Regions from separate parts of the Homo sapiens genome. Here regions 2 and 3 are each reported to be linked to region 1. The links are microRNA targets in miRTarBase. Many come from high-throughput screens and were not tested one by one. Region 1 holds a microRNA gene; each other region holds the end of a gene's coding sequence.

Region 1 (3,258 bases):
GATTCTATAGATCCTGCTTTACGAAGGCCTGGTCGCTTTGATAGAGAATTCCTCTTTAGCCTGCCTGATAAAGAGGTAAGAATTTAATGTCACTCAAATTTTGACAAAATATATTGCTGTTTATTAATAATAAGTCTTGGTATAGTAAAAATTTGGAGATTCTTGAGTTTTGTATCATGGTCTTGTCAAATGATAGTAAACAACTCAAATGGGGACAAATTTTTATTCTTTTCTTTAAATATAATAATGCCTTCCCAAAATTACTCTTAAAATTATTTCAATTTGAGTGTAGCCTTTGGATGTTCTAAGTGTTGCTTCAGAACATATGGCTTAATGAGTAATCAATCCTTAGCCAGTTTGTTAGCCTTGTCTTTTTCATGAATATCATCATATAATCCTACCGAGTTTTTTTAAGTCTACTTAATCTTCTGGGAACCAAAGAGGAAAATATGTCAAGAGCTGTCTGTACTCTTAAAAACAGCTCTTAATATGCACCAGAATGAATAGCTACTTTAGTAGTTACTTTTCTCTTATTTGTGTTTATGACGAATATAACTTTAGTGCTATAAATGCAAATATGTTTAATAATGAGACTTAAGTTCATTAAACTCTTAAAAGTACATCCTTTTTCTTATTTTCACTTTCATATTTTGCTTATATTGAGTTTTTTTGGTTGGTTGTTTATGATAAAGTCTTGCTCTGTCACCCAGGCTGGGGTGCAGTGGCACAATCTCAGCTCACTGCAACTTCCGTCCCCGGGATTCAAGCAATTCTCGTGCCTCAGACTCCCAAGTAGCTGGGATTACAGGCACATGCTACCACGCCCAGCTAATCTTTGTATTTTTAGTAGAGAGTGGTTTTCACCATGTTGGCCAGGCTGGTCTTGAACTTCCAACCTCAAGTGATCCACCTGCCTCGGCCTCCCAAAGTGCTGGGATTACAGGTGTGAGCCACCGCACCCGGCCAGTATTAAGTACTGATCACTTTAAAATTTTAGATAATCAAAAGTATTTTAATCAAAATTAATGTAATCTGAATAGCATTTATTATTATAGTTGTAAAAAATTAAATTGTTTTTATTCATAGGCTCGAAAAGAGATTCTAAAGATTCACACCAGGGATTGGAATCCCAAACCACTGGACACATTTTTAGAAGAGCTAGCAGAAAACTGTGTTGGTAAACATTGTTTTAAGCAGTTAAAATAAATACTACATTTATTTCAAATATGAAACAAGTTATATTAGGTTGGTGCAAAAGTAATTGTGGTTTTTGCCTGTAAAAGTAATGGCAAAAACCACAGTTTCTTTTGCACCAGACTAATAAAGAAATACAAGGTTATATTTGTTTCTTATCTCTTATTTGTGGCATTTTCTTCTCATGAAGTCTTGGTATTAAATAGAGATATTTGACAAATTGGCCATCAGGGGCAGAGTAGATAATAATATAATTGTACAAAATACAATATATTATTATATCATAATAAGATAATAGCTATTCTTTACTGACCATTTTGTAGTCATCCTTTTAAGCATTTTACATATATTATTTCATGTAATTTTCACATCATTCCTGTGATGTAGGTAGCAGTATCTCTACAGATGAAGAAATGGCTGGAGAGCATTATGTGAATCTTCTAAGGTCATACAGCTAGTAAATTACAAACTGGAATGTGAATCTAGTCTGTGTGATTTTAAAACTCTTGCTTTTGACCTCTGTGCTATACTTAGTGCTTGTGTATTGCACTCTTAAAAGTTGATTGATTGTTGATGGCCATTACTACCCTATAAGTTTACTGGGTAAAAGAGATTTTGGTCTTATTACTCTTAAATATTTGCTAACTATATTCCGAGGCTGATTTTTAATTTTTTTTTTAACCATGGTCATGCTAATAGAGTTTTGTGTTTCTTTGTTTGGTCGGCTGGTTCTTTTCTTCCCCTGGTTGCTTTGGATAGGATACTGTGGAGCAGATATTAAATCAATATGTGCTGAAGCTGCTTTATGTGCTTTACGACGACGCTACCCACAGATCTATACCACTAGTGAGAAACTGCAGTTGGATCTCTCTTCAATTAATATCTCAGCTAAGGATTTCGAGGTAGCTATGCAAAAGATGATACCAGCCTCCCAAAGAGCTGTGACATCACCTGGGCAGGCACTGTCCACCGTTGTGAAACCACTCCTGCAAAACACTGTTGACAAGATTTTAGAAGCCCTGCAGAGAGTATTTCCACATGCAGAATTCAGAACAAATAAAACATTAGACTCAGGTATAAAACTTGATTGACCATTTAAAGTTAGTTTTTATAATCAGTAAAGTGAAATGTTTCATACATACCAGAAATATTTATTTGTAAAAGAATCTCTTGAAAAGAATTTGGTAATGCTTTACCTGGGATATTTGAAGGAAATTTACTCCATGGATTGCCCTTAATTTAACTTATTGTAAGTTTGGGGTGCATTTTTACATTTACTTATTAATTCATATCTACACAAATATTTTTGATTCTTTGAAAAAATTTAATTGAAGTATGCTGACTTGGTAACTGAAGCAATAAAGATTTGCTTTGCAATCCAAAAGTTACTAATGTACAATTTTTTGGTTTTATAGATATTTCTTGTCCTCTGCTAGAAAGTGACTTGGCTTACAGTGATGATGATGTTCCATCAGTTTATGAAAATGGACTTTCTCAGAAATCTTCTCATAAGGCAAAAGACAATTTTAATTTTCTTCATTTGAATAGGTATATTTTTCTTGCAAATCAATGTTTTTTGCATGTGTAAATTTTCTAAAAATAAATGAGATGTGGTTGAAAAAATAAAAAGTGCTAACCAATCTGCTTTTTATTTAAATTAAACTACCAGAAATTTTTTGTTGTTACAGTTGTCACAACAGTAGAAATTACAGTCTATAAAAATATTCCTAAAAACCTTTGGGGGTCAGTTTCCAGAAACTATGTGAACCATGTTATGATTGGTTGGCCTTATTGGCAAGACTTTTTACTTATGAAAGTTTATAGTTGACAATTTAGGGGGAAAATTTAAACTGTTTTTTCTAAAACATAGCTTATTAATCATTTCTCTTTCAGAAATGCTTGTTACCAACCTATGTCTTTTCGACCAAGAATATTGATAGTAGGAGAACCAGGATTTGGGCAAGGTTCTCACTTGGCACCAGCTGTCATTCATGCTTTGGAAAAGTTTACTGTATATACATTAGACATTCCTGTTCTTTTTGGAGTTAGTACTACATCCCCTGA
Region 2 (3,258 bases), not on the chromosome of region 1:
GACAATGAGACAGATATTTAACAACTGGATTGTCCTGGGAAATCGGGTGGTATGGCTGCTGAAATGTTGAGCTGTATGTTGACACTTAATGACAGGAGAGAATAGGAGACTGGAAAGAGTTTAGTGTGTTAGCATGGTTGATTGGGGTGAGTCTCTCCAACATTTGATTTGACACTTTTATGCTGTTCATACAATACAGAAAGAAAAGCAGGCTTCCATTCACGCCTGGCTTTAATGCTGTGCAGCCCCTTTCCCTGTCCTTATCTCAGTCCCTGCCTGTTCTTTCTCCCCCGGGATGGATGCCGCCTCTTATCACTCTCCCACAGACTCCACCGCTGACCCTGAAGCCGTCCTGGCTGAAGCCTCATCCCGGCTCTACTCCCGGTTTGGATTCTCCAGCTGCACCCTGCAGGTCGAGCAGTATCAGCCGGAGATGGCCCAGTGCCTGCGCTGCCAGGAACCCCCCCAAGCCTGAGCCATGGCCCTGCCCTCACCCCACTGCCAGGCCGAGGCTCAGCCCCAGACTCTCAGCATCTGCTGCCCTGATCACAGAGACGGGACCGAGCCAGGTCCATACCCCTTCCTCTCTCCCTCCTACCACCTGCCAGTTTCCCCAGCCTCAGCCCCAGCCCCAGCCCCAGTGGGCAAGACCAAAGTGTGGCGGGGAGTGGGGTGGGAGTCAGGGGAATAGATGTGACTAGTTCAGGGGCGGGGACTCCCAGGCCTCAGTGTGGCAGGGTGTGTTGAAGGCCTGTGGTGCCATCTCCCCATGGTTCATGTGGAGCCACGAACATCCTTTCCCTGCAGTCCATTTGTCTGTGTGGCAGGCTGGCTGGCTGGGGGCATCTGCCTGTCTATGTGCTGTTGGTGTGCCTATGCCTGGGGGAGGTCAGTAGGGGCCCCCTCCCCACATGGCCCTCGCTCTGTCTATGCAGGGGCCCCAAAGCCCGCACTTTGTCCGTGTGTCTTAGCCCTGTGGTTTTGTCTGTGTGTGTGTGTGTGTGTGTGTGTGTGTGTGTGTGTGTGTTCTTGGTGCTGTGGCCTGTGTGTCTCTGTGCCTATGTGGCTGTGCTATGGTTTCTATGAGTCTGCTCCATCCATGTGTCTGTTTGGGGGTCTATCTCTCCATCCCTCTGTTGGTGCTGTGCCCTTGGCTATCCCTGAAAGAGGGAGGACTCCGCTGCAGCTCCACCAATAAACTTGTGTCTCACTGCATCTTTCAGCCTGTGTGCTGACTCCTCAGGAGGGGGAAGTCAAATAGGTCACTTGAGAACAACAGAATCCCTCCTGTCCCTTCCCAGCCTCTGGAGTGACCTCCCACAGACCTCCTGTCCCTTCCCAGCCCCTCCACCCTCAGATGGAGGGTAAAAGCCACCAGTCTCTTTACTCCCCTTCCCCTGGCTCACAGCATGCCTGGGTCCTTGGCTCAGGGACAGTCCCATGTGCCCTGGGCTTGGTTGCAGGAGAATGCTGGAAGGTAAGGAGCCAAGGAATCCCTGGGAGTCAGTCGTTCTCAGAGGTCCCTGCATGCCAGTGGGCCTCAGGCTGGCTGGAGGGAGGCTGGGTCCCTTTGAGGGAGAATGGCTAGACCATAGCACTGATGTGGGCTTGGTTCTCAGGCCATCTAAGGTGTCCAGCGGTAGGGACCCCTCAACCCTGATAGCAGCCAACCCTGAGTCCAGGTTTAGGCTGTGAACACCAAGGACCTCTTTTACACCTATTCCCCCTTTGTCTTAAGAACTGCATATTTTGACACATTAAGTCTTAAAATCAGGCTCATTAAGGGATTGTTGATTTTCTCTTTAAAAAAAATCAAACTCAAGCTGGACATAGTGGCCTGTGCCTGTAATCTCAGCCCTTTGGAGGCTGAGGCAGGAGGATTGTTTGAGCCCAGGAGTTCAAGACCAGCCTGGGCAACCTAGGGAAACCCCTGTCTCTACAAATAATTTAAAAATTAGCTGGGTGTGGTGGTGCATACCTGTAGTCCCAGCTATTCAGGAGGCTGAGGCAGGAGGATTGCCTGAGCCCAGGAGGTCAAGGCAGCAGTCAGCCATGATCATGCCACTGCACTTCAGCCTGGGCAACAGAGCAAGACCTTGTCTCAAAAAAAAAAAAAAATCAAACTCACTGGGTTTGGTGGCTCATGTCTGTCATCCCAGCACTTTGAGAGGCTGAGGCAGGAGGATCGCTTGAGGCCAGGAGTTCAAGACCAGCCTGGTCAACATAGTGACACCCTGTCTCTACAAAAAAAATTAAAAATAAAAATAAATTAGCTACGTGTGGTGGTGTATGTCTGTGGTTCCAGCTACTCAGGAGGCTGAGGTGGGAGGATCACTTGAGCCCAGGAGGTTGAGGCTGCAATGAACTATGATCATGCAACTGCACTCCAGCCTGAGCGACAGAGCAAGACTCCATCAAAAAAAAAAAAAAAGAAAAAAAAAGAAAAATCAGCTAGGCAAGATGGCTCACGCCTGTAATTCCAGCACTTTGGGAGGCTGAGGCAGGCAGATCACTTGACCCCAGGAGTTCAAGATCAGCCTGGGCAACATGGTGAAACCCTGTCTGTACAAGAAATACAAAAATTAGCTGGGCATGGTAGTGTGTACCTGTAGTCCCAGTTACTTGAGAGGCTAAGTGGGGAGAATCACTTGAGCCCAGGTTGTCGAGGCTGCAGTGAGCCATGATTGTGCCACTGCACTCCAGTCTGGGCAACACAGTGAGACTGTGTCTCAAACATGGTCAAACCCTGTCTCTACTAAAAAATACAAAAATTTGGCCGGGCACAGTGGTTCATGCCTGTAATCCCAGCACTTCAGGAGGCCGAGGTGGGTGGATCACCTGAGGTCAGGAGTTCGAGACCAGCCTGACCAACATGGAGAAACCCCGTCTCTACTAAAAATACAAGAATTAGCCAGTGTGGTGGCGCATGCCTGTAATCCCAGCTACTCAGGAGGCTGAGGCGGAAGAATTGCTTGAACCCAGGAGGCAGAGGTTGCGGTGAGCCGAGATTGCATCAGTGCACTCCAGCCTGGGCAACAAGAGTGAAACTCTGTCTCAAAAAAAAAAAAATTAGCTGGGCATGGTGGTGGGCACCTGTAATCCTGGCTACTCGGGAGGTTGAGGCAGGGAGAATCGCTTGAACCCGGAAGGCAGAGGTTGCAGTGAGCTGAGATTGCGCCACTGCACTCCAGCCTGGGCGACAGAGGGAGACTCTGTCTTAAAAAAAAAAAAAAAAATTAGACTCTGTGCTTTGATTTT
Region 3 (3,258 bases), not on the chromosome of region 1:
CTGAATAATATTTCCGACATTATTTGTCTAGACAGTCATCATCAAAAACAGTGATGCTCGTGCAACCACTAGTGTCATATGAGAGGGGGGGAAGAAGTTAAAACACATCTAAAAGTAAATTTAATAGTTTTAAGTTAAAACTATAAACAAATTTTTAAGTTAAAACTGTGTATTGAAAATTGTCTGGATATTAGCATATTTACTGGCTGTCATACTCATACCTGCTGGGGTATGGCTATTTTTCTTTTTAAGATTTGGAGTCCTGAAGCCACAACAGCAGAGCTGATCAGGAAGAGGGAACTACGGCGAGAGAGGTTTACACATGAGGTGGACTTCGACGATTTTATGATGCCTTTTCAGAAGAACATCACAGAGAAAGCTCGAGCACTGGAAGCTGCCTTGAAGACCTAAGTCATAGCAGTTATTTCTTGGGGTAAATGCTTTGAGGCCCAGGGACCAATCTTTGGAGAAAGTAGATATTTCCATCAAAGCCAAAGCAATCCATACACCAAGAACTTGTTACCAAGAATTTCTTTTTGCTTTAACAACTATAAATATTCTTAGCTGTCTAGAGAAAAGATGTATGTTATTTTGAAATGAATGGTATGTCATTCTGGATAAATCCCCAAGCCCCTTTATGAATGTAGTGAAATACATGGCATGTGGGTTATAAACGTTGCTGTCAAAAGATTTACCAGGTCTACACCATTATGCTTATTATTTTTTTAATTATCCTTTTTATTTATTAAATAGAGACAGAGTCTCACTATATTGCCCCAGCTGGTCTCGAACTCTTGAGCTCAGGCAGTCCTCCCAACTTGGCCGTCGAAAGTGCTGGGATTATAGGCATGAGCTACTGTGCCCAGCCTGCTTATTGAAGATACATTTCTAGTGGAAATTGATGAAACAATTTAGGTTTTGGAAAAAGAAGTAATATTTAATCTTTTAAGGAAGGAGTTTATTTCTCACATGCCATTATAAACTATGTGTATTAGATACCTTGGGTTGAATACACTTTTAACAGCCCTAGATCGATAGCCCTAGCCCTAGATAGATAGCCCTAGCCCTAGATAGATAGCTATTAGGTTGGTGCAAAAGTAATTGTGGTTTTTGCCATAACCTTTAATTGCAGCAAAAACCGCAATTACTTTTGCTCCAACCTGACAGCTAGGTATCTAGCTAGCTAGAAAGGCAGATAGACAGATATATAGATGATAGATAGATAGATGATAGATAGATAGATAGATGATAGATAGATAGATAGATAGATAGATAGATAGATAGATAGAGATTTATTGCAAATAATTGGTTTACATAATTTTGGGCCCCAGATGGTTAAGTGCTAAATTTGTAGGGTAGGCTATCAGGAAGTGCAGGCTGGAAACATGCAGGAGCTGTCCCTGAAGTCCACAAGTGGAATTTCTTCTTCATCATGGAAACCTCAGTTTTGTTCATACACCTAAATACTTCAGTATGTCTTTCCTAAAATAAAAGGCATCCATTTACCTAACCAGATTACGATTGTGAAAATTTCAACTGTTGTTAAAGCGACTGATGGGATCAGTTTCACCTAGATTATCTAAAGCAGTCTCCTTTACATAAAGTCAATGAATTGTAAATATTGGTTGCATGTACACAATTCCTTCACCACAACACCTAAGATTAGTATTTGATTGAGTTACTGGGTGCTACAACCTAGCCAAGTTGAGTCATAAAACTGACCATCTCTGGAGGTGTACTCTGCAGTAAAAAGCTAGCTGAGGCATTATTCACACCAAGAAATGCAGTGGGTACCGAACAGGAGCTCCAAAAATATCCAACGTCTCATTGACAGAAAGAAGCCACTTTAGAATCTGCCTTACCAGAAGGCACCAATTGCAGATTACAGCTCTGTCAGTCACGTATGGATTAAACCCCTTTCCTCTAACCTCCTCCCTCTCTTTCCAACCTTGGAGGGACCTTCCACAGGAGCCAGTTAGGGAGGAGAAGGGAAGAGAGAGAATGAAGCAGGTAACCAGGCCCACCCCTCTGGAGGAGACAGACCTGAACAGGGGTTGCTTACAAGCATTGCATTTGGATCCCAAGATTTGCTATTACAACTAAATTTTGTCTGTTTTGTAAGGTTTTGGTTGGTTTTTTTGTTCTCTCTTTTCTTTTTGTTTTGACATAATTTCATATTTATGGAAAAGTTGCAATAATTTGACAAAGAATTCTTATATGCCCTTTACCCAGATTACCTAAATGTTAACCACTTACCACATTTGCTCTATCTCTTTCTCCCTCTACATATATGCATATGTATGTTTAATTTTTGTCCCCGAACTATCTGTGTGTCCGTTGAAGACATGATGAAGACATGATGTTCTTCACATGATGTTTTCATATTTGTGTGTCAGTTGAAGACATGATGTTTTAAATATTTCATTGTGTATTTCCTAAAATCACGATGTTCTTTTGCATAACAATATTACCATTGGCAAACTAAGGAAATTAACACTTAAGTGAACTATTTAATCTATAGACCTTATTCAGATTTTGCTATTTATCCCAATAATTTCCTTTGTACTCCCAGGTCATGAAATACATTCGCTTGCCCCATCTCTTTAGTCTCTTTTAGTTTAGAACAACCTGTATTTCTTGTTTGTTTGTTTGTTTGTTTGTTTATGACAGTATATAAGAAGAACACAAGCCACTTTTATCTTGTAAAATGTCTCTCAACTTTGGTTTGTCTTAAATGTCTTCAAGAATAGATTCAGGTGATGCTTTTGGGGCAGCAGTGCTACAGATGTCATTGCACCCTTCTCAGTACATCATATCAGGAGGCACATGATGTTGATACCTGATATAAACTTTAACTGCATTTGCAGTTGAGAGAAATGTAAATAAAAGTAAAGCTGCAGTAATAAATCATAACTGCATAAAATTAACTGTAGTACATACTGTACAACTGTAATAATTTCATAGCCACCTCCTGTTGCTATTGTGTTGAGTTCAATTGTTGTCTTTTCTCAAGCTTACTTTATTGCACAAATACAGTATTTATAACATACAAAATACGTGTTAATTGATTATGCTATGGGTAAGGCTTTTGGTCAACAGTAAGTTATTAGTATCTAAGTTTTTTGGGAGGCAAAACTTATACATGGATTTTTTTATTGTAAGGAGAGTTGGTGCCGGTAACTCTCTAGTAGTTTTCCTTGTACTTAATGAATATCTGATAGATAGATACTTTGAAACTATGGAAATTTCCTTCTACTT

What was found. Region 1 holds the annotated microRNA hsa-miR-548t-3p (AAAAACCACAAUUACUUUUGCACCA, at 1,248-1,272, opposite strand). A microRNA usually pairs through its seed, bases 2 to 8, with sites in the 3' UTR of a target mRNA and lowers its output. Matches are read on the target gene's strand: a 7mer-m8 pairs with bases 2 to 8, a 7mer-A1 pairs with bases 2 to 7 and ends in A, and an 8mer does both.
Region 2: miRTarBase lists SLC30A3 as a target of hsa-miR-548t-3p. Seed matches in the 3' UTR shown: 7mer-m8 at 977-983.
Region 3: the mRNA of ANKEF1 is a reported target of hsa-miR-548t-3p. Seed matches in the 3' UTR shown: 7mer-m8 at 1,105-1,111 and 7mer-m8 at 2,131-2,137.

What each region holds. Positions count from the first base shown.
Region 1 is chr8:123,346,102-123,349,359 of GRCh38, reverse strand. MIR548AA1 (microRNA 548aa-1) reads right to left here and starts at 1,326; the gene lies at 1,230-1,326. ATAD2 (ATPase family AAA domain containing 2) reads left to right here. Exons shown (of 28, transcript NM_014109.4): 14 at 1-75; 15 at 1,087-1,177; 16 at 1,954-2,268; 17 at 2,610-2,742; 18 at 3,088-3,258. It overlaps MIR548D1 (microRNA 548d-1), which reads left to right and starts at 1,230; the gene lies at 1,230-1,326.
Region 2 is chr2:27,252,529-27,255,786 of GRCh38, reverse strand. SLC30A3 (solute carrier family 30 member 3) reads left to right here. Exons shown (of 8, transcript NM_003459.5): 8 at 327-2,103. The coding sequence ends at 475. Among named protein-coding and RNA genes, the nearest start is that of SLC30A3, 8.9 kb to the left of the region's middle.
Region 3 is chr20:10,055,250-10,058,507 of GRCh38, forward strand. ANKEF1 (ankyrin repeat and EF-hand domain containing 1) reads left to right here. Exons shown (of 11, transcript NM_022096.6): 11 at 253-3,054. The coding sequence ends at 411. All of the region lies in intron 3 of SNAP25-AS1 (SNAP25 antisense RNA 1), which reads right to left. Among named protein-coding and RNA genes, the nearest start is that of ANKEF1, 22 kb to the left of the region's middle.